3 linked regions of the Homo sapiens genome follow. The protein of the gene in region 3 interacts with the protein of the main gene of each other region in a pairwise test. Each region holds a gene or a part of one and is shown on either strand. Other genes may lie near its edges.

What was found. The genes of interacting proteins can lie anywhere in the genome.
Region 1: the proteins of GCM2 (region 3) and ZMIZ2 interact in binary tests that used the Homo sapiens proteins (3 or more experiments, as listed by UniProt).
Region 2: the proteins of GCM2 (region 3) and GPSM1 interact in binary tests that used the Homo sapiens proteins (3 or more experiments, as listed by UniProt).

What each region holds. Positions count from the first base shown.
Region 1 is NC_000007.14:44,758,737-44,765,980, forward strand, and holds part of ZMIZ2 (zinc finger MIZ domain-containing protein 2), read left to right. Parts: intron 1-544; coding exon 545-724; intron 725-827; exon of another isoform or gene 828-839; coding exon of another isoform or gene 840-1,010; intron 1,011-1,414; coding exon 1,415-1,492; intron 1,493-1,688; coding exon 1,689-1,857; intron 1,858-2,685; coding exon of another isoform or gene 2,686-2,712; coding exon 2,713-2,857; intron 2,858-2,958; coding exon 2,959-3,169; intron 3,170-4,144; coding exon 4,145-4,250; intron 4,251-4,519; coding exon 4,520-4,677; intron 4,678-5,682; coding exon 5,683-5,750; intron 5,751-6,204; coding exon 6,205-6,273; intron 6,274-6,598; coding exon 6,599-6,843; intron 6,844-7,230; coding exon of another isoform or gene 7,231-7,244. UniProt on the Homo sapiens protein: Increases ligand-dependent transcriptional activity of AR and other nuclear hormone receptors.
Region 2 is NC_000009.12:136,323,489-136,330,672, forward strand, and holds the start of GPSM1 (G-protein-signaling modulator 1), read left to right. Parts: upstream 1-4,050; 5' UTR 4,051-4,207; coding exon 4,208-4,275; intron 4,276-7,184. UniProt on the Homo sapiens protein: Guanine nucleotide dissociation inhibitor (GDI) which functions as a receptor-independent activator of heterotrimeric G-protein signaling.
Region 3 is NC_000006.12:10,879,042-10,886,360, forward strand, and holds the start of GCM2 (chorion-specific transcription factor GCMb), read right to left. Parts: upstream 3,001-7,319; 5' UTR 2,753-3,000; coding exon 2,663-2,752; intron 1-2,662. UniProt on the Homo sapiens protein: Transcription factor that binds specific sequences on gene promoters and activate their transcription. Through the regulation of gene transcription, may play a role in parathyroid gland development.

The sequences.
Region 1 (7,244 bases), on a different chromosome or scaffold from region 3:
CCCATCTCTAATAAAAATACAAAAAGCATTAGCCGGGTGTGGTGGCGGGCGCCTGCAGTCCCAGCTACTTGGGAGGCTGAGGCAGGAGAATTGCTTGAACCCAGCAGGCAGAGGTTGCAGTGAGCTGAGATCATGCCACTGCACTCCAGCCTGGGTGACAGAATAAGACTCCATCTCAAAAAAAAAAAAAAAAAAATTAGCCGGGCGTGGTGGTGTGCACCTGTAATTCCAGCTACTTGGGAGGCTGAGGCAGGAGAATTGCTTGAACCCAGGAGGTGGAGGCTGCAGTGAGCCAAGATTGCACCACTGCACTTCAGCCTGGGCAACAGAGTGAGACTGTCTCAAATTAAAAAAAAAAAAAAAAAAAAAAACAGGCTTCTGCATGTGAGAACTGCCTGTGCCTGACAGTGTCACAGCAGGATCTTCAAGGGAACCAGGAAATCTCCATTCCCCGAACCCTGCCACACATGAGACTCTACTTCCTTCTGGAACCAGCTCCCCTGATGCCTTTTTTCTCCCCTCGGGCATTTTGCCTCTTTTTCAGGTGTATCCAGGGCAGCAGTATCTGCAAGGAGGCCAGTATGCACCCAGCACCGCCCAGTTTGCGCCCAGCCCTGGGCAGCCCCCTGCCCCCTCCCCTTCCTACCCTGGGCACAGGCTGCCCCTGCAGCAGGGCATGACCCAGTCCCTGTCCGTGCCTGGCCCCACGGGACTGCATTATAAGGTAGGGCAGGCTCCTCCAGGCCCTGTGCCGGGCTCCGTGCTGAGTGCTGTGGGACAGGGGACCTTGGGGCAGTCCTGTCCTCGAGAGCGACAGGGTGGCTAAAGGGGCCAGCAGGATGTGTAGGTCCATGTGTGCTCATGGACCACAGCTCTACAGGAGATGGGGGGTGGGGGGTGGGGGCATTCTGACCAGTGCAGGAGCAGCTCCTGGGGTTTGGGATCCAGTTCCGAAAGGACCCTCTACAAGATTCATATATCTCAGGGGTATCCTGTGCAGGGAGCAGCAGGTGGGTACCCAAAACATTTGAATGTTCTTTATGGAAAAGTGTCATTCCTTCTACTTGCTGCAGAGAAATCCATTGAGAGGACAGGCCCTCGCTGCTGGCCATGTACCCTTTCTGGGTGCATGGGCAGAGCCTACCTCCCTGGGAGCCTGGGTGCGCCGGGTGGTGCAGCTTGGGGGAGGAGAGGAGGAGGGCTTAGCGTGCTTTTGTCTTTTCAGCCCCTCCAACCTGTTTGATCATTTTCCTCTGTGGCTATGATTGCTTTAAGTAGTGTTACTTGTAGATTATTTGGAAAATACAAGAGAGTGTAAAGAAGACCGTGTATGGTGGGCTTCTAGGGTCAGGTCCAGGGGGCCCGGCAGGGGTCAGGTTGGAGCCCCAGGTGCATGCAGTTTTCTCTCCCGCAGCCCACAGAGCAGTTCAACGGGCAGGGCGCCAGCTTCAACGGGGGCAGCGTCAGCTACAGCCAACCTGGCCTGAGTGGGGTAGGGGGCCTGGCCGGGAGGATGGGCCGGGAGGCTCACAGGGTGGGCATATGGAGAGAGGGCGACCGGGCAGGCACCCCTGGGGCCGCCTCCTGTCCACCTCTGTTATCATGGTTCCCAGTGGGTGCGCCGTGAACAGACTCCACTCCCATCCACCCTGGCAATCTGCCTTGACTGTTTGTGCTCAACCCTACAGCCTACCCGTTCCATCCCGGGCTATCCCAGTTCCCCACTGCCAGGGAACCCCACGCCACCCATGACCCCAAGCAGCAGCGTCCCTTACATGTCACCAAACCAAGAGGTCAAGTCTCCCTTCTTGCCTGATCTCAAGCCCAACCTCAACTCCTTGCACTCATCGCCCTCTGGTAAGTCTGTCCACTCTTGGGACAGCGGGGTGACAAGGCCAGGGTGGGCATGGGGGAATCACAGGACTCCAGAGAGTCCTGTAGGAGCTTGGGGGACAGGGGATGGCTGCCATATCCCTAAGAAAAGGGCTGGGTGTGGTGGCTCACACTTGTAATCCCAGCACCTTCGGAGGCTGAGCACAAGAGTTCAAGGTTACCGTGAGTGTGATCTTGCCACTGCACTTCAACCTGGGTCCCAAAGCAAGACCCTGTCTTAAAAAAAAAAAAAAAAAAGGCCAAGGATTCCATCTTCTTAAAGACAAGTCGCTTAGTGCCAAGCCTTCACCTTTTTGTTCTGTTTGTGGCTTTCTTTGCAAAGGAGGCTGTGGCTCTTCTCTCCCCTGTGCACAAAATGTTGTATATAATTTCAGGGGATTTATGAACCCCGGAAGCCCATTCCAGGGAGACCACAGCAGCAGAAGTTGGGATCGTAGAACTCTAAACAGAGCTATAGGGCAATTGCAGGAGGCTCTCACACACCTTGGCCTCCCAGTCTCTCTGAAAGCACTGGAAACACCTTTTGTCTGGGCTGGGGACATGTTCCCCTATTATGGTTTAGGGGACACTGGGCTGGACTGCTGAGGCAGGAGGCAAGACAGAACATCACGACCGAATGCCCAGGCCTCAGGAGAGATGCTGCCCATGGCCCCAGCCCCAGGGCACCACTCAGGCCTGCCAAGCAGTGCCTGACAGGAGGGGCTCCCTTCACCAAGGTCCCTGCGGGGAAGGTGGCTGGGGAGCCGCTGCCCTCCTTGAGTGACACAAGACGCTCTGGCTGGGGCAACCCAGCTCACAGCCAGTGGCCTCTGCTCCCAGGAAGCGGGCCTTGTGACGAGTTGCGGCTGACCTTCCCTGTGCGCGATGGGGTGGTCCTGGAGCCCTTCCGCCTGCAGCACAACCTGGCTGTAAGCAACCATGTCTTCCAGCTGCGAGACTCAGTCTACAAGACCCTGATAATGAGGTGAGCTCCGCCTGGCCCCCACCTGACCCCCACGAGGCTCTGTTCCTCCTCCCACACTCTCAGGGCCCGTTTTCTGGGTGTCCACCCATCTTCCTGAGCAGGCCTGACCTGGAGCTGCAATTCAAGTGCTACCACCACGAGGACCGGCAGATGAACACCAACTGGCCAGCCTCGGTGCAGGTCAGCGTCAATGCCACGCCGCTCACCATCGAGCGTGGCGACAACAAGACCTCGCACAAGCCACTCTACCTGAAGCATGTGTGCCAGCCAGGCCGCAACACCATCCAGATCACCGTCACCGCCTGCTGCTGCGTGCGTGTCCTGCGCCGAGGGGGCGGTGCTGTGGCGTGGGGCGGGGTGTGGTGGGGCCTGGCCCAGCGGTGCCGTGGGGTGGGGCGGGGTGTGGGCGGGGCCTGGCCCAGCGGCGCAGTGGGAGCGGAGCCAGGACATGGGCGGGCCGGCCTGCAGCACCATCAGATCATGCCGCCGTCTGCTGTTTTGCTGTCCACCGCCTGCTGTAGCATGTGTGCCCCCTTGCAGGGTGGAGAGCAGGACGTGGGGGCTTTATTATTTCAGAAAAATGCGTTGCTTCTCTTTGTTACTGCCTTGTATTTCTATTTTAATCTGTCATCCTTGCCCTTTAAGAAAGCGATCCAGTAATATACCCTAGCTGTTTTCCAGTTAGAGTAAATTGACTAGATTTGATGCTCACATTAATTATGTAAGAGAAACCAGGATATGCAGAAAGCTCATGGAGCTCGGAGTCCCCGGCTGATCAAGCATTACCGGTTCTAGCAAGCATCAGGGTCACCCTTGGGCTAGAGAAGAAAGACATGGCTTATGAGTGCACTAGTCAGCCTGGGCATGAGGGCCTTGGGGACGGGTTGGCCACACACCACATTGTCTGGGATGTGGCAGATGTCAACACAGACCCAGCATCTGTGACTGTGGATGTGCGAGCAGGGGGAACGTTCAAGGGGACTTGAGGTGATTCTCTTCATGGAGAAGTGGTGACTAGGCAATGGTTAGACCGGCAGGATGCCCAGCACAGCTGTAGAGATGGATACAAGCGTGGGCAGGGCGCTGAGGCCAGGAAAGGCAGCTGGATGGGGCCAAGCCACTGAGGAGTTTTGTTGGCTGAATCCCCACCCCCAGCTCACCCTGCCCTCAGCCTTGTCCCTCCCCCACCTGGCAGCCCCTGACACACAACCCCCAGCACACCCTTTACCTGGCCAGGGTGGCCCCTGGCCCAAGTCCCCCTGATGACATCCTCCCGTTGTATTGCAGTCCCACCTCTTCGTGCTGCAGCTAGTGCACCGCCCATCCGTCCGCTCGGTGCTGCAGGGCCTCCTCAAAAAGCGCCTCCTGCCTGCTGAGCACTGCATCACCAAGAGTGAGTGGCTCCTGCCCCTCAGCTGCCAGGCAGCCATCCCCATTCTGTGTGGCCCAAGCCCAACAATCCTCCTTGTGGGCACCTCCTCGTGTCACACCAGGCCTTCTCCTTGGACAGGTGGCTCTGCAGTAGGGGCAGTGGTTAGTTCCAGGTGGCCCCTCAGAGCTGTCAGTGGGTCAGTGACTGGGTCCCTGCCTCGTTGGCATCCCCATTCACACCTCCCCATCTTGGGGACCCTTTACTCAAGTCCTTTACCTTGTTGATGTCAGTAAAGCGGAACTTCAGCAGCGGCACCATCCCTGGCACCCCTGGGCCCAACGGAGAGGACGGGGTGGAGCAGACAGCTATCAAGGTGTCCCTGAAGTGCCCCATCACCTTCCGCAGGATCCAGCTCCCTGCCCGAGGTCATGACTGTCGCCACATACAGGTAGGTGGTTACTGCAGAGTCTTGCCGGAATTTGCTGCTGCTAAAATATCTTGAGTCGATACATCAGTGTCATTCTCTGGACAGACGTGAACTCCGAGTGCCTTGGCTGTCAGGCTGACAGGACAGGCCTCCCACGCCAAGGAGGCAGGTGGGCCTGGCTCCCCCAAGACTAGGCTATTTTTTCTTCCAAATATAATTGTCATTTTACTAACTTTTTTACTGCCTGCTTCATTCATGGGTTCAAGTTTTGAAAGGCATAAGATTGCAGGGTCCAGTCTTCCTGCCCTACCCCCAAGGGTGACCATCGTTAGCATCTGTCTTTGCAGAAATACTCTGGGTATGAACAAGTAGATGCACAGCCCACTGTCTCTGTGGTTACATAGTGGTCCCTATTGCACAAACTGCTCTGTGCTGTCGTTTTTCTTCTTTTAACACCATGTTCTGAGGCTGGGCGCGGTGGCTCACACCTGTAATCCCAGCACTTTGGGAGGCTGAGGTGGGCAGATCGAGGTAAGGAGTTCGAGACCAGCCTGGCCAGCATGGTGAAACCCTGTCTCTACTAAAATTACAAAAATTAGCTGGGGCATGGTGGTGTGTGCCTGTAATCCCAGCCACTTACGAGGCTGAGGTAGGAGAATCGCTTGAACCTGGGAGGCGGAGGTTGCAATGAGCTGAGATCGAGCCACTGCATTCCAGCCTGGGTGACAGAGCGAGACTCTTGTCTCGAAACAAAACAAAAATACCATGTTCTGGAAGTGGGTCCCAGTCAGCACAGCTGCCCGATGCTTGCTTTGGCCACATGGCATTCCAGTCTCAGTGAGAGCTGTTTGGGCTGTTCCCAACCTTGATCCATTAGAATGATGTTGCAGTGAAAACCTGGTACATGCAGTATCTCAGTTATGCATGTAAATAAGTCACACATTCCTGAAAAGGGATTGCAGAGTGACCAGATTTTCCCTGTGCTACCCACAATGAGAAACTGACTTTCTTCCCATCTCTCTACAGTGCTTTGACCTGGAGTCGTACCTGCAGCTCAACTGTGAGCGGGGGACTTGGAGGTGTCCTGTGTGCAAGTGAGTCTCAGATGCAGCGTGTGATGGAGGAGGGGCTGGTGCTTTTAGAGGCTTTCATGGGTGAAACCTCCAACAGCATCATCAAAGATACGAGCCTGCTGGGAGGAGTCACTGCATGGACTGGGGTTGTGCAGCTCAGCGCAGAGAGCTCGTATAGGGTGGCCTTATGCAGGGTCATCTCATGCAGTCACCTTGTGCAGAGTCACTTCACACAGGGTCACCACATGCACAGGATCACCTCGTATTTTCACCTCACACAAGGGTCAGTCACACAGGGTCACCTTGTACTGTCACCTCACATAGGGTCAGCTCACACAGAGTTACCTTGTTCAGTTGCCTCACACAGGATTGCCTCATGCAGGGTCACAGCTGACAGGGCTGAGAAATGACAGGGCCTGTGCCCAGGACAGGGTTGTGCAAGGTCTCTGAGCTGTGTCCCTTTTTTTCCCCACAGCAAGACAGCTTTGCTGGAGGGCCTGGAGGTGGACCAGTACATGCTGGGCATCCTGATTTACATTCAGAAGTAAGCATCCTCTTCCTGTGATCCCTGCATCTGTGGCCACTGGAGGGCAGCCCCAGGACATGTCGGGGGATGTCCCTTGCCAAGTGCAGCCTTCCAGCCTTTTTCCGGCATGGAGCAGGCTGGATTCCAGGCCAGAGACAGCGTGTGTGTCCTACCTGAGTGTTGGTGCTGGGCCCAGCGTCCTGCTCGATGTGGAAGGTGCTGGGTGGAAGCAAGCATTTGAGTGGGGGAACCTGCCTGGAAACAGCCCAGGGCTGGGAGGGGCAGTGGGTGCCGGGCCAGCAGCAGGCCAGGAGGTAACCATTCCCCACCTGTCCCTGCCCAGCTCTGACTATGAGGAGATCACCATCGACCCCACGTGCAGCTGGAAGCCAGTGCCCGTGAAGCCTGACATGCACATCAAGGAGGAGCCGGATGGGCCAGCACTGAAGCGCTGCCGCACCGTGAGCCCCGCCCACGTGCTCATGCCCAGCGTGATGGAGATGATCGCCGCCCTGGGCCCCGGCGCTGCCCCCTTTGCCCCCCTGCAGCCCCCCTCAGTCCCTGCCCCCAGCGACTACCCTGGCCAGGGTAAGTACAGCAGGCTAGCCTTGAACCTCAGATGACCCTGGGCATATGGCTCCTCTCCCCAGATCAGTCTCCTCACCTGCAAGAATGTGGCTATGCAGGTCACACACCTAGGTTATCAGTGTTGCCACACAAAACATGCCGCGGGGCACCTCCAGCCCCTCCCATCTCAGGGACGTGGCGGTGAAGGCACAGTCTCAGCTATGGTCCCAGGAAACAGACAGTGGGGCCTCCACCCTTCCTTCCCCGTTTGGATTAAGGGGCTCCTGGCTGGAACACCTCACAGGACTGGCCCCATCTGGGGCCCCCCTCTGGGACCCACCTCACACGCGTGGTGCGTTTGTTTGTGGCTGCTCCCATTCCTATAACCTCCGAGACCTTCACTCCTAGGAATGTCCCAAGGC
Region 2 (7,184 bases), on a different chromosome or scaffold from region 3:
GTGTTTCCCTGGCACTCACAGCATCACCATCTGCCAGGCTGGGTGGGGCGCAGATGAGGAAGACCAAGGAAGTTCCACACGACCTGCCTCGCCATGATGAGTGAGCGTGAGCTGCCTCCTGTGTGCCCTGCCTGCCCAGAGATCCCGGGGACATCACCTGGCTGACAAAGTCTGCAGCTGCCAGCAGTCGGCCAGGAATGCCGCATGGCCAGGTGTCTCATACTGGCGTGGGTGTCGTGCGGCCTCACGCGGCCCTTGAGCTATTTCCAGGTGTGGGTATCATCTCCCAGCGAGGTGCTCAGCCCTGGGGTGGGACAGACCGTTTCCTTCTGGCTCCCTGCAGAGCTTGTGGGCCCCTCCACCCACCCTGCAGTCCCCAAACTCCAGGGACTTGGAGGTCCCCAAGGAAAGGACATGGCAGTGGGAGATGATGTCATGAGGGGACTTGGGCAATGGGGAGGAACACATGGCCAAGCTGGGAGGAAGAATAAGTTCATTCTCAGAGCAACGAGATTATGTGAACATGGTAAACCCAAGTGTTCTTTTTAAGTGAGATTACTGGGAAACAAAGCTGAAACTGTTCCTTCTGTGTGTGTGTGTGTGTGTGTGTGTGTGTGTGTGTGTGTGTGTGTGTTTGGGTGTCCTTCACTGTCTCCCTCCCCACTCCCGGCCTGCTTCTTCCTTCCCCAGCTTGGAATCCACGGTTGAGGCTGGTCAGGAACCATCAGGACCCAGCATGGGTAATGGCAGCTGCTGGTGCCCTAGCCCCCACTGGGTCCTACAGTAGCTGCTTGTTGGGGAAGGGGCCTGAAAAGGTGGGAGCAGAAGGAAGCCAGGGTCTTGGGGCCGTGGGCTGCCACAGCCACCACAGAAACACTCCAACTTCTCCCAGCCCTAGCAAACCAGTGGAGGTGTGTGCTGGTGCTTTGTTCCTGGGGTGGCTTGGGGCCGCCTGGCTGCCTCTCCCGAGCCTGGCCCTCACCCAGGAGGCCACACCAGCCTCGAGTGCCCACCTCCGTCCAGAGCCCCAGCTCCCCACTCCTGGGGGCTGAGCCAAGAACCCTGTGGCTGTCCCACCGTCGCCTCCCAGAGGCTTGTCCGGCGCAACAGGACAAGGAAGGACTAAGGCTTAGAGTCGGCCCGATCAGGTGACGCCTGAGCTGTCACCGCTGTCACCACTTACACACAGGGTGTGTGGACAAAGTGGTGCGTGCCAGGGAGGGCTAAGTGACCGAGGGCAGGCACGTGGCAGGCTCCTGAAGGTGGAGGTGGCGCTGACAATGGCCACCAGTGAGCAGGGCCCTGTGTGTGCTGGGGCTGACTCCAACCCCTTGGCGCTGCCACGCAGGGGCTTGGGAGGGCCCCTCCCCAGGCACATGGGAGGTGGCCCCTCCCTGACCACGGAGCCATCGTGTCTGCAGAGGCCCACCCTGCGCCCTGTGCTGCTGCCTGGGGCCAGAAGAATAAGTCGATGTGAAATGGCTTTTTCTTTCCTCACCCCCCTTTGGGAGTCAGGCCCGTTAGGAATGGAAGGGGCTGTGCTCCTGGTCCCCTGGGGGAGTGAGCTTCCCGGACTCTTGGGGGGATCTGGTAAGGTGGATGGTGGGAGGCTCGAGGGTGTCCAGAGCCTGATGGGAGGGGGTGGCAGTGGAGGGTCATCCCTCCAGGGTCTCCCTTCTGGATGTGGACACCACATGTCAGGCCTGTCACCTGGCCTTGTCACACTCCATCTCTGGGTCCCCTTCATAGGTTTTCTCGACAGGAGAATCAGGTCCCTGGATAGGAGGAGACGCCCCTCTGTGCAGTGTGGTGGGGATGTACCCCCAATCCAGCCAGGACCCACTGCAGGGGCCCAGCAGGGGCAGGCACGAGTGTGAGAGCAACATGACCCCAGCAGCTCTCGCTGTGTGCCAGGCACATGGACACGCACCACACAAACCCCACCGTGTGCCAGGCACACGGACAAGCACCGCACAAACCCCACTGTGAGCCACTAGGCACATGGACAAGCACTGCACAAACCCCACTGTGTGCCAGGCACATGGACAAGCACCGCAGAAACCCCACGCCTCAGTGACCCTCCACACCTTGCGGGACGGGCAGCCCTCAGGTGACAGAACCGAGGCTCAGAGAGGGAAAGCAACTTGTGCCAGGTCACACAGCCTCATAGCCCAGCTCGGCCTAACAAAGCCAGAGCCCTCGGGGGTGCAGGTTTCCCCACAAGTTCTGATATAATGTTGGGGCTCTCCCGGCCCAGGGACACAAGCTCCCAGCTCTCTGCATCAAGGAAGGAGACCAGGAGAAGCTCCCCCAGCAATGACAGCTACGAGGCTGCAAATCTCTCCCTCCCTCCACCATTTGTGCAATGTCTTTTGTCCCCACTTCTCTTCACCAGCCTCCCACCACTAACCCAGGGGACCCACAAGGGGCTCACAGTGTTGGTGTGGACCCTCTGTGGGCCTCCTGATGGCAGCAGCGCCTGGGGAAAGAGGGCTGAGCTGAGGCCTGGCACAGGCAGGGCCCCCAGCAGCCCCTGCCCTTACAATGGGATGCTGGCTCAGGTGCCCGAAGCCCAAAGGAGGTGGCCCGGAAGGTTGGAGCTTCAATCGAAGGCCTGTTCTCTGCCCGCAGCCAGGCCCAGGGCTGTGGCAAAGGAGGGTGGTGCCCCAGCCAACACCACTGTCCCTGCCGGCCAGCAGCCACGGCCCCGGCTGGAAGGGAGCAAGGCTCTGCCTGGCTTCTGTGGTCTTTGGGGGAGGGCACGTGGGCCCAGCAGGCAGCTTGCGCTGCGCTCAGGGCACAGATGGTTCTCATTCCCGTTGCCTCCCTTACACAGGAAAAACAAACCAGCCCGGGGCCAACAGACCCCTTTTTAACCTCGTGTTTATTTTCCTTCCCATGCTTGAAAACGCTGACTGTCCTGTGGGCGGCAGCTGCTGAGGGTCTTGCCAGGACGGCACTTTCCTGACCTCAGGGCAGCTCTCCCAGGGAGGGGCTGGGGTGCACGGAGGGGCCCCGAAGGAATGCAGCCCATTTCCTGCTCCTGGACTTCTCCGAGTCATACCCGGGGTCGCAGCTGCCTTTCAAGGGCCTGGAGTCTCCTGACACCACCGGAAGGCCCAGGATGCTGTCGGGGGCAGGACAGAACCCGGGGAGGCCGGCTGTGGGCCTCGCTGGCTGCGGAGAACCCCCCAAGCCATCGGGAGCTGAGGGTGGGTGGAGGGGAAGCCACGTCACACCACATAGGCCCACAGGGCTCCAAGAATTCAGAGGAGGAGGAGGAGGCGGTAGGGGCTGGGGTCCCGGGACCCCGGGTGGGCACAGCCTACTGTGCCACCTGCATCCTCCCTAAGCCTGCACAGTGCCCAGGAGGAAGGAAGGGGCAGGCTGCATCCCCATTCCGGGGGAGCTTGGGAGGGGAATGTGGCCACCCAGGGTCTCAGAGGTGGGGGGCTTACCAACCGTCCCACAGGCCAAGCAGAGCCTGTATTTGTCATCGGTGCCCCAGGTTTCTCTAAAGCAGGCAGACAGCATCCCCACGGCCTGCGCCCCATGGCCCAAGGCAGAAGTTTGGAGAAGGGGGCAAAGCCACGTTGGGGCTGCACAGAAGAGGAGGGTAGGACCCCCGAGGCGTAGGGCGCCCACCAAGAAAGGCAAGGAGGCCTCAGCAGCCCCTCCCCACGTGGGTGAGGCTGCGGGGCTCACCAGGCGGCCTGTGGATGAAAGGAGCCCAGAGGCCAGTGTGGCTGCACTGTGACCCAGGGACCCCCGCGGGCCCTCAGAAGTCCCCAGGGGACCAGCAGCAAGGCCAGGCCCAGGCCCTCTCCCCTGCATTCCCTGGGGTGGGGTGGGCTGGGGCCCACACCCCCTCCCCCCTCCCCCCTCCCCGGGGACTGCCCGCCTCACGGCGCCCCTCCCCCCGCGTCCGCCCCGCCCCCCGCAGAGGGAGGCACGCGGCGGTGGCCGCCCGGTCCGCGCCCCCTCCCCGCGCGGGCGGCGGTGACATCACGGCCACGGCGGCGGGAGGGGCGGCGGCGCCCCGCGCACATCACTTCCTCGGCGCCTCCCCGGGGGAGGACGGGCGAACGAGGCGCGGACGGACAGGCGGACAGCAGGGCGGACAGCAGGGAGGACAGCAGGGCGGGCAGGGGGCGGACGGCCACGGCGCGGGGGGCGCTCCCGGCTCCCGCTCCCGCGTCCCCGACCCATGGCGGGCCCGGCCCCGCCCGCGGCCGACGAGCTCCCGGGCCCGGCCGCCAGGCGCCTCTACTCCAGGTAGGACGGGCCGGGGCCGGGGCCGGGGCCGGGGCTGGGACCGGACCGGGCCGGGTCGGGACGCGGGGGAGGCTGCAGTTGGGAACAAAGGCAGCTCTCGCGGGCGCGCAGCGTGGCTGAGGACGCGCCCCTCCCTCCAGGCCGAGCCCAGCCCGGCGTGTGCCCGCGTGGGCGTCCCCTGAAGCCCTCTTTCCCCCAAGCCAAGGGGAAGGGGGTGGGGGGCCGGGGGGCTGGAGGCGGGGTGGGCAGCTTCTCCAGCCTCACTCCCCTGGCACCTGGCAGGGGCACCGTGGGGTGCTTCCCTCCCAAGCCTGGCCCTGCCATGCCCGGGGCACTCAGGGGCATCATGGCCAAAGAGACCTGGCTGCTCTGGATGGGGCTCTGCCCCTCACCAGCCCTCCACGAGCCCAGTGGGATCCAGCTGGGTTGGAAGGGAGCCAGCCAGGTGGGTGTGTACCTGCCTGAAAAGGCATCTACTCTCCGGGCACATTCCTGGGTGATCCCAGTGACTGGGCTCTGTGCCCCACGCCTTTGGGGATGACAGGGTGGCCCTGCCCCAGGTGGCATGCCTGCCTGGTGACTCCCAATGTCCCCCCAGGGGCTGCCCTGGGCCCAGCCGGGCAGGTGCCTGGAGCCCCAAGCAAGGCTGGGTGGTACCAGGCCTCAGGCAGAGCCACACGAGCGTGAGGTCCAGGCAGGGGCTTGCGAATGGGTGGCAGCCGTCAGAGGCAGGCCTGGCTCCCCAGAGCGAGGGACACTATTGTCCTCTGGACATCCCTAAAACCTGGTGACCTCCCTGATAGGGGTCCCAGCAGCTGATCCCGGGGGGCGCCTAGCCTGGCCCCCAAGGATTCTCTGGCCCCAGCCAAGCAGCAAGCCTCTGCCTGGGGCACCCGAAATGAGGTACTGGTGGCGGCACGGCGGACAGAGGCCTTGCTGCCTCCGGTCTGCTCTCTGCTTTGGTCCCAGACACAGCCCCATTGTGCCGTCCTGGATGGAGCGCTGAGCCCCTAGCCTGGCTCCTGGGCCCCACGCAGGGGAGGGGCGTGAGGGTGATTTTGCTGGCAGCTGCTGCCAGGGGCCTGCCCTAAAGGATTTTCAAGGGTTTCCTCCGCTGATCTGATCGGCTGTGCAGGGCCGCATGTGCTCCAGGGCGGCCGTGCTGTGAGGGGGATGGATAGCAGCCCTGGCTGGAGTGAGTTTGAGTGTGAGTGTGTGGAGCTGTGAGAGAGTGTGTGTGTGGAGCTGTGAGAGACGGGTGTCCAAGACCTTAGCCTTGGGTGAGGCCTGCACAGCTGACCATAGAGTTGGGCATTCTCCAGGCTACAGCTAGAAGCCTGGGGTCCCCTGGGGACACGCCAGGCAGGAGCCAGCCCCTGGCAGGGGCAGTGCTCAGGGGGACCACTCAGAGAGACCCCAGACCCAGCCTTGCATCCCCCTAAGCAGGGAGTCCAGTTGAGCTCCAGGGTGGAGTCAGGCCCAGACTTGGGGGAAGCGCGCCAAGCCCTCCAGCAGGGCCTGTGACGAGGTCCCCCCGGGAGTCTGCACCCCACCGTGTAGCCACAGCCCGGTTTGGGCAGGCGGTTCCTGGTCGGAGCTGGCTTCAGAGCATGGATGCCTAGACGTGTTCTGGGCCAGTGGAAGCTGCGGGCCAGACGGGAGGGCCCTTTGCTGTCATGCTGGGGCTGGAGAGCAAGACACGGAAAAGTCTCCTGTCTCCTGAAACCCGAGTGCTGGGGGCGGCCCACCTGCTGGCGTGGGCGGTGGGCATGTGGATGCCCTGGAGGTGGGCGGAATCCGTGTGGGCACTCCTCACGTGGCTGTACTGGGGTCCCTCAATGTGGATGGGGCTCCAGGTTGGCCCAAGGTCTCCTCTGCCCCGTCTACTGCCTTCCCACACTGACATTCCTTCCTGGAGAGAGGAGTTTCAGCTTTTAAAATGGGGAACTGTGCCTGGAAAACACACTGACAGCGAGGCCCATGAATGTGCCCATGAGCCCACTGGGTACCCTGAGGGGCCCTGGGTGCTGGGTCGGTGGGGACGGGCCCCTGGGTTCTGGGTCGGTGGGGACGGGGCCCTGGGTGCTGGGTCGGTGGGGACGGGCCCCTGGGTGCTGGGTCGGTGGGGACGGGGCCCTGGGTGCTGGGTCGGTGGGGACGGGCCCCTGGGTGCTGGGTCGGTGGGGACGGGCCCTTGGGTTCTGGGTCAGTGGGGATGGGCCCTGGGTGCTGGGTCGGTGGGGACAGGGCCCTGGGTGCTACAGTTAATGCTCAGAATTCTGGCCCACTTGCCAGGGGCTCCCTGGCCCAGAGCAGGGCTTTGGGGTGAAGAGGCCTGGCGGGGACAGGCCAGTGGCTGAGAAGGCCCCGGAAAGTGGGGAAACCCTGGGTGGTCGTCTCCTGGCCTCCCACCTGCTTTAAGGCCAGCTGAGTGCTCCCCGGGGCTGGGGCCGGGAAGGGGCAGCAGAGCCACCCACCTTGGGGTGACCCTGTTAGAGATGCCCTCCAAGCAGCAGTCACCAGCTCCCAGACAGGACGTCCTCAGGTGTGGACTGGGCCCCCCGCAACCTCTCTGGCCACATGGCCATGCTACCCCCTACCTTCACTCCATCCTTCCTCCCTCCCCTGTCCCCGTCCTGGGCACCATCCCTGGTGGGTCGCTGGGCAGCGACGGGCCCTAGGAATTCCTGGCAAGCCTGACCCCAGGTGCTTCCTACAGCTGGGTGACCTTCAGTCCCCTCTCCAGTGATTCCAGCTCCCGCTGTGCTCCCAGCCCGGTCCTGCGCCTCACTCTCTCCCCTCCCCTGGCCACTGAAGGGGAGTCGGTGTGGTTTTCCCTGGGGGTGTCTGGCTGGGGGATGGGGCAGATAGAGCCAGCTGTGAGCAGAGTCTCTTCAGCATCTGCTCAG
Region 3 (7,319 bases):
TAAGGTTAATGGGTGATTTTGTTTCCAAAATTACAAAGATATTGTTGAAATCATTATTACTACCATAGGTATTATTTATCTTTTCTCTGAAATATTACAATTGACATGATACATCAATGTAAGGTAAGTCACAAATGAAATATATAATGATGTGCTATCAACTCCAAGCTTATATTAAATGCTAATATCTTTGTTTTAAAAGTGAATATTTTAACTTAAGGATCTTAGTAACAAATTGACAATTTTCCAGAAAACAGCATTTCTTTAGCTCTCCCTTAAGGATGTAGACTAGGCCCCCATGCCTCACACGAGCTACTGAGGTAGTGACCCTGGCAATGAAGCCACAGAGATTGTATTTTTAAAATCAGTACAAGAATAGAGGATGTCAAGGATTGGGTTTCACTTGCTCTCAAGTGTTGGCATGTTGTGTGTGTGTGTACATACACACACATAGACACTGAACCTGATCGTAGACCTGGAGGAGAGTTTGAGATGGTTATCTCACTCTACCACTTGATGACAAGTGAGTAAGTAGCCTGAGACTAAGGCAAATTCAAGGACTCTCTCAAGGTCAGACAGGTAGTTTAACTTGCTCACTCGGTTACCCAGAGCAGGGCGATGCTAAGTTTCTTCACTTCTCCATGTCCCAGTGTGCCTGGCCCGTTTGAGATATTACACACATGCTTCCTGCTTAACAACCAGTCTCCTAAAAAAAAGTTCATATTGACATGGGAAGTCTAGCAAATGCTTGAGAGATGAACCATAATTACATTACTTGGATGTGACTTTTCTAAAATGCAAGATATGATTGTTTCCTGTGAAGATGTACATGGACAGAAACAGAATGAGATGCACTTGCTGTACTGTGGTCCACTTTCATGAAAATGGTACCATGTGACTCTAAAGTAGGCAGACTTTAAAACAAAGGAGTGGGCCAGGCACGGTGGCTCACGCCTGTAATCCCAGCACTTTGCGAGGCTAAGGCGGGTGGATCAGCTGAGGTCAGGAGTTCGAGACCAGCCTGACCAACATGGAGAAACCCAATCTCTACTAAAAATACAAAATTAGCTGGGCGTGGTGGCGCATGCTTGTAGTCCCAGCTACTCGGGAAGCTGAGGCAAGAGAATCGCTGGAGCCTGGGGGATGGAGGTTGCAGTGAGCTGAGATCGTGTGATTGCACCCCAGCCTAGGCAACAAGAGCTAAACCCCGCCTCAAAAAACAAACAAACAACAACAAAAAACCCCAACAAACAAACAAAAACAAAGGAGTAAAACACACCTAACCTACTACAAATATATGGATCCAAAAAAGTGCTGACCTCTATGAGAGGCGACACAATGTTGCAATGAATTGTTATTCATCTGAACACCTATCAGACACATTTTAGTTGCGGACAAAATGACCCATCTCTTTTATCCCTGTGCCACAACATTGCTGGAAGCCCACATCTGCAAATGGCAGGGAAGCAACTCTCATTCTACACCCCCCACCCCCTACAGCCAGGACTTCAACATCACTCAATTTTGGCCCTAACCAGTGTGACTAATGATAATTGGTCATTCTCTGGAACTGGCTTCAAACCACCCACTTCATTCACCACTTCATCCACCCCAGTCATTCTTTGGACTTGGCTCCAAACCATTTTTGCTTTATTGAAATAAAGCAAAATACAACAAATTCACCCTAAAAGAATGATGATTTGCTTGTCATTAGAGAAGAAGTAAGTTTTGGGTACAGGTGGCCTTGTTGGCATGACTATGGGGCCTCCTTCCTCTGAGCAGTTAGGGAGGTCTGAGCAAATTGCTCAAGTCGGGCTACTTGTTTTAAATTTAGGTCATTAGATTCACTTTACAGTTGTACCTCAGTTTTGCTGCATGAGAAGCAGTGGTATTTACATCTGCTTAGATTTTCTCCTTAGCTTCCTCATGGATTTAAAGTAAATGAATAAGGAGAGAGGCACCTAATTTCTACCTTGGTTAAAGGGAAGTGAAAGGACAGGCGTCCCGCTCTCCCCAAGACTGGGAATGTGGAGCCTGACCAACATTTCCTGCTGCTTTGCTTGTGATTTCAGGCAAGCACAAGGAAATTGCTGGGAGAAGACACATTTCTTCTTCTTCTTCTTCTTCTTTTTTTGAGATGGAGTTTTGCTCTTGTTGCCCAGGCTGGAGTTCAATGGCGTGATCTTGGCTCACCGCAACCTCTGCCTCTCGGGTTCAAGCGATTCTCCTGCCTCAGCCTCCCGAGTAGCTGCGACTTTAGGCATGCGCCACCACGCTGGGCTGATTTTGTATTTTTGGTAGAGACGGGGTTTCTCCATGTTGGTCAGGCTGGTCTTGAACTCCCGACCTCAGATGATCCACCCGCCTCAGCCTCCCAAAGTGCTGGGATTACAGGTATGAACCACAGCGCCCGGCCAAGAAGACACATTTCTAAACCCAACTCAGCCTTTTGTAGAGTCCAGTTTTCTTTCTACACTTGAGAGGGCCTCAGAAACCCAGAAATTTTGCGGGTATGTGTGTGTGTGTGTGTGTGTGTGTGTGTGTGTGTGTGTGTGTGTGTGTGTGTATGGTCCGTCCGCAGACTCTTCAAGAACTCGAATGCCATTCTCCCTCCTTCGGATGGACAGCGCCCCGCGTGCCCGCACACACCCGGTTCACTTACCTGAGGCATCTGCGGATCGTTGATGTCCCAGCTGAGCTGCATCCCGTAGGAGCACACGCCGACCGCTTCCTGCACCGCGGCCGCCGGCATCTGCCCAACTCGCTCGCGCTTTCCGCCCAGGGTTCTGAAAAATAGAAGAAAAAAGGACAGGTGCGCCAGGTGGGTTTTTTTTCTTCTCTTTAAAGAAGAAAGTGGGGTGTGTGAAGGGGAGGTGCAGAGAGAGAGAAAGAGAGAGAGGCTGTTTAGATATCTGGAAGCTGGGGACAATGGTTATGGACCCGGGCGGGGCCTTGTCCTTGGCCGCGGTGCTGAACGTTCTCCACCCGAACGGCAGCATCGACCTCTGGCAGCTGCCCCCTCCTTTATAAAGATATACCTCCGGGGGGCTCCGCCCTGTCTCGCCTACCTCGCTAGCGCCCACGCTCCAGGGGCCGGTCGCCCCCTCCACCACAGTCCCAGGAACGGAGGTGGAGGTTAAACTCAGCCCTGGAAGCAAATGGAAACTGCAGCCAGAGGGTGGGGGTGGAGAGGGTAAGTAGGAATGTATCCTTTAAGTTTAAAACCTTATTATTTTCTTCTTTTCTTTTCTTCTTTTTTGTCTCACTCTGTTGCCCAGGCTAGAGTGCAGTGGCGCCATCTCAGCTAACTGCAACCTCTGCCTCCCAGGTTCAAGCGATTCTCCTGCCTCAACCTCCCGAGTAGCTGGGAATACAGGTCCGTGCCACCACCCTGGCTAATTTTTGTATTTTTAGTAGAGACAGGTTTTAGCCATGCGAAACCCTGACCAAGCTGGTCTTGAACTCCTGACGATCTGCCCGCCTGGGCCTCCCAAAGTGCTGGGATTACAGGCGTGAGCAACCGCGACCGGCCTATTTTTTTTCTTTTTTCTAAACGCGTCCAGCTTCCCTGATTTCGGAAAGGGGCTTAGATGGAGGCTTTCCAGCAAAGTCCCCTGAGAGCCAACACTCAATTCCAGGAGAGCATGGGAACCGTGCGTGGGCCCCTCTGCCGTCCGCGTGCGCCCTAGCCTGAATAACCGCGCCCACGCCTCCTAGTTAGGGGTCAGCCCATTTTGGGCCTCCACTGCCGGCTCTTCCCCTAACTATTGTGAGTGTCTCGCAGTCTTGGCTCTGCTGTTTGGGACGTGCCAGGGTGCGCCAAGCCTCCGCGTATGCTCGCGAGCCCAGGCGCCTTCACGCTCCCGGGGACTTCGGAGGGACCTGGCCCTGCAGGAACGGAGTCCTACAAAGTGAACCTGGAGGAGGTGGGGGGCGGAAATGAGCCCGGGGTAGGTGGGAGCCTGGGGTAGGTGGGAGCCTGGGGAAGGAGGGAAAGGGGAGAGGGGAAAAGTCCCAAAGAACTCGCTTTCTCCACTGCTTTGGCTCCCTCTGGGTCTCAGCTTCCTTATCTGTTTATCTGTTAAATAAGAGGTTGTGGTTCGGCGAGCTCTCAGTTGCCACCCACCCGAACACAAATCTTTTTTTTTTTTTTTTTTTTTGAGACGGAGTCTCACTCTGTCTTCCCGGCTGGAGTGCAGTGGCGCAATCTCGGCTCACTGCAACCTCCGCCTCCCAGGTTCAAACGATTCTCCTGCCTCAGCCTCCCGAGTAGCTGGAACTACAGGCGCGCCATCGCGACCAGCTAATTTTGTATTGTTAGTAGAGACAGGGTTTTACCAAGTTGGCCAGGATGGTCTCGATTTTTTGACTTCGTGATCCTCCTGTCTCGGCCTCTCAAAGTGCTGGGATTAAAGGCGTGAGCCACCGCGCCCGGCCCACAACTCTTAAAAAAAAACTTCACTGATATAGTCTTGGAAATATCACGACGAAATTGAATTTACTCCATTACAGTCTTGGGAGGCTTTGGAGGACTAGAGAATCGCGGTGGTGCGGAGGTGCGCAGGACAATGTGGGTTCTCCGGGGCTGGGACGAAACCTTCATCATCTGAGCAGCCGACTCGCCCAGGGCTACTCCGGCACATGGAGACCCTCAGTATATATATATATAAAAAAAACAAAAAACAAAAAACAAACAAAACAAAACAAAACCGATTGAAGTGACTAAAGTCACTCTTTGACTACCCCAAGGCCGGATTCTTGGCGGCCAGGGGAAAGGGCTTCTGGAATTTATTGCCCGCGTCCTTGTTTTGCAGCTGCACGCTTCCATTCCCAGCCCCAGCCAGAGAAGAGGAGCCAACTCCTCACGGCAGATCCCTTGATAGAGGAGGATGAACCGAATCCATGACCCTCCAGACCCGGGAAGCGACGCACCCTAGGCCTTGGCACCGCAAAGCCCGTGCTGAGCGCACGGACGGGTGCTGCCCGGGACTCGGCCAGGAGGGCGCCCATGCCAACGCCTCTTGCAGGATTAGTGCCTTCGGTTGGCAAAAGGCGGATAAAGGAAGAGCGAAACCACATCAGGAAGCTAAGGGTGGTCCACGCTCCCTGTCCTTTTACTTCCCGCGCCAAAGGCACAGTGAGGCTTGCTTAGAAAAGTCCATCCCGCGATTGGGCGCAGTGGCTCATGCCTGTAATCCCAGCACTTTGGGAGGCCGAGACGGGAGGATCGCTTGAGCCCAGGAGTGCAAGACCAGACTGGGCAACATGGCGAAACCCTGTCTCTTCGAAAAAAAAAAAAAAAAAAAAAGCCGGGCATGGTGGCGTGTGCCTGTAGTCCCAGCTACTTGGGAGGCTGAGGCGGGAGGATCGCTTGAATCCAGGAGGCAGTGGTTGCAGTAACCTGAGATAGCGCCGAGCCTGGGCGACAGAACGAGACCCTGTCTCAAAAAAAAAAAAAAAAAAAAGGAAGGAAAGAAAGACAGAAAGAAAGAGAGAGAGAGAGAGGAAGGAAGCAAGGAAGGAGAAAGAAAAGAAAAAGAAAAAAAAAAGAAAAGGAAAGAAGAAAGAAAAAGTATCCCAGTCGGTCAGAGAAGCCTGCCAGTGGCAGCGGACCAGCGAACTCTGTTGGGAAGAAAGGCCAACTTCGAGCAGTTCCTCGCGATTTTTTCCTCCTTTATCTTCTAGCTGGGGTCCTCCTCCCAGTCAAAGCCGAAGGGTCCTAGCAGAAGAAAGTGATTTGTTCATTCCCAGCCTCCTTTCTCCCGAAGTTCTCCCCTCCTAAAAGGTCCTGTCAGTCAAGGTTTCTGATTAAAATCACTCTCAAATGGTCGCCACTGAGGTCTAGCTGGGAACGAAGAGATCTGTCTACTCTTCACCCACGAGTTTCATTCACAGATTTTTCATCTTATTAACTGTCTGCCAAAGGTCCCCGAAACTCCTGTTGATTCAGTTGCTTTTCGTGTTGTTTTGTCTTCCAAAATTGAATGAAAATTTATTGATTATCCATTTTAATTATAGTATTTCATTAAATGTTGTAGTCTAAGATAACTTATCCTTTCAAATGTTCTAAAAATAACTTTAAAATGGTGATTTAAAGTTACCTCTGAAAATGCATAGAAATTAATTTTTGGTCTTATTGCAGTGCTAGAATAGTTCTTGTCTCTGTGCTTTTGGAATGTTCCTAGAGAGACCTGACCCGTCAAAAACATAAATAAATAAAACTTTTTTATGTAAAAGGCAAATCAATTAATTTCTAAAGGGATTCTGGTATCCAAAGAAATGTCATAGAGCCTCTACTATATTTAGTTTGAGAAGAATTAGAGTATGCATTTCAAGTTGCCATAAATTATATTAAGACAAAACATGTTAGTAAAAGAAGCTAATCAAAGTAAAAAAAAAACCAGATAAAAGGTATTTTGCCTATTCTGTTATTTTTAATTTCTCTTAAAGATTTGAATGCATTGCACCATAGACTTTGGAAGGACATGTTTTCCCCCAAAGCCTGAAAATAATAGATGATTAAGTTTTCTATCTAATATTATGAAAACTCTAATTTTTAAATATTCTCTTAAAATTCATTTAAACTGTAGTATTTTGTTTATTGCTTCTTATTATTCATTGTTTCTTTCTTGCCCTGGTATTATATTTGTATTGACTCACAATAGCTTATACTCACAGCTGTTCCTGTCTTGATTACTAGTTTAATATTACAAAAGTCCATTCATTGAAAAGGAAAAAAACTTGCGTTTGAATTTCCTTGGTTTAGATTAAAATAGGTAAATTAATGTAAGAATGTTTACATTATACTTTCCAGGAAATTGATATGACAGGCTTTGACATAAACATTGTTTTGAACGGACTAGAAATGTGTGCAAGTCCTGGGCTAACAGGGGTTCTGGTTTTGTTATGTTTTGCTTTGGTGTAGACAAATATCTTCCGTACATATTATGACTTGAAATACTCACAGGTCTAGTTATAATACAAGTTGATTTTTACACAAAGGATGTTTGGATTGGAGGGGTCTTTTTTTTGTTTTTTGTGGAAAACTCTAGTCCAATTTAATTTTGCCACCGTGTTCACACAACTGGCCACCTATCCGAATCAGCCTAGCCATTGGTACGCATACTTGTCAGGTTAAAGGAAATAGGCAAACAAAGAAACAAAAAAACAAAAACAAAAACAAAACTATTTGCTTTGATTAAAAAAAAAAATTCCCCTTCCTCCCCACCACGGTACTTAAAAAACAACCACCAAACACACTTTGTGTGTGTGTGAAATCAGGAATGTATTAATAATATCGGGTACAAGTCTGGTTACCA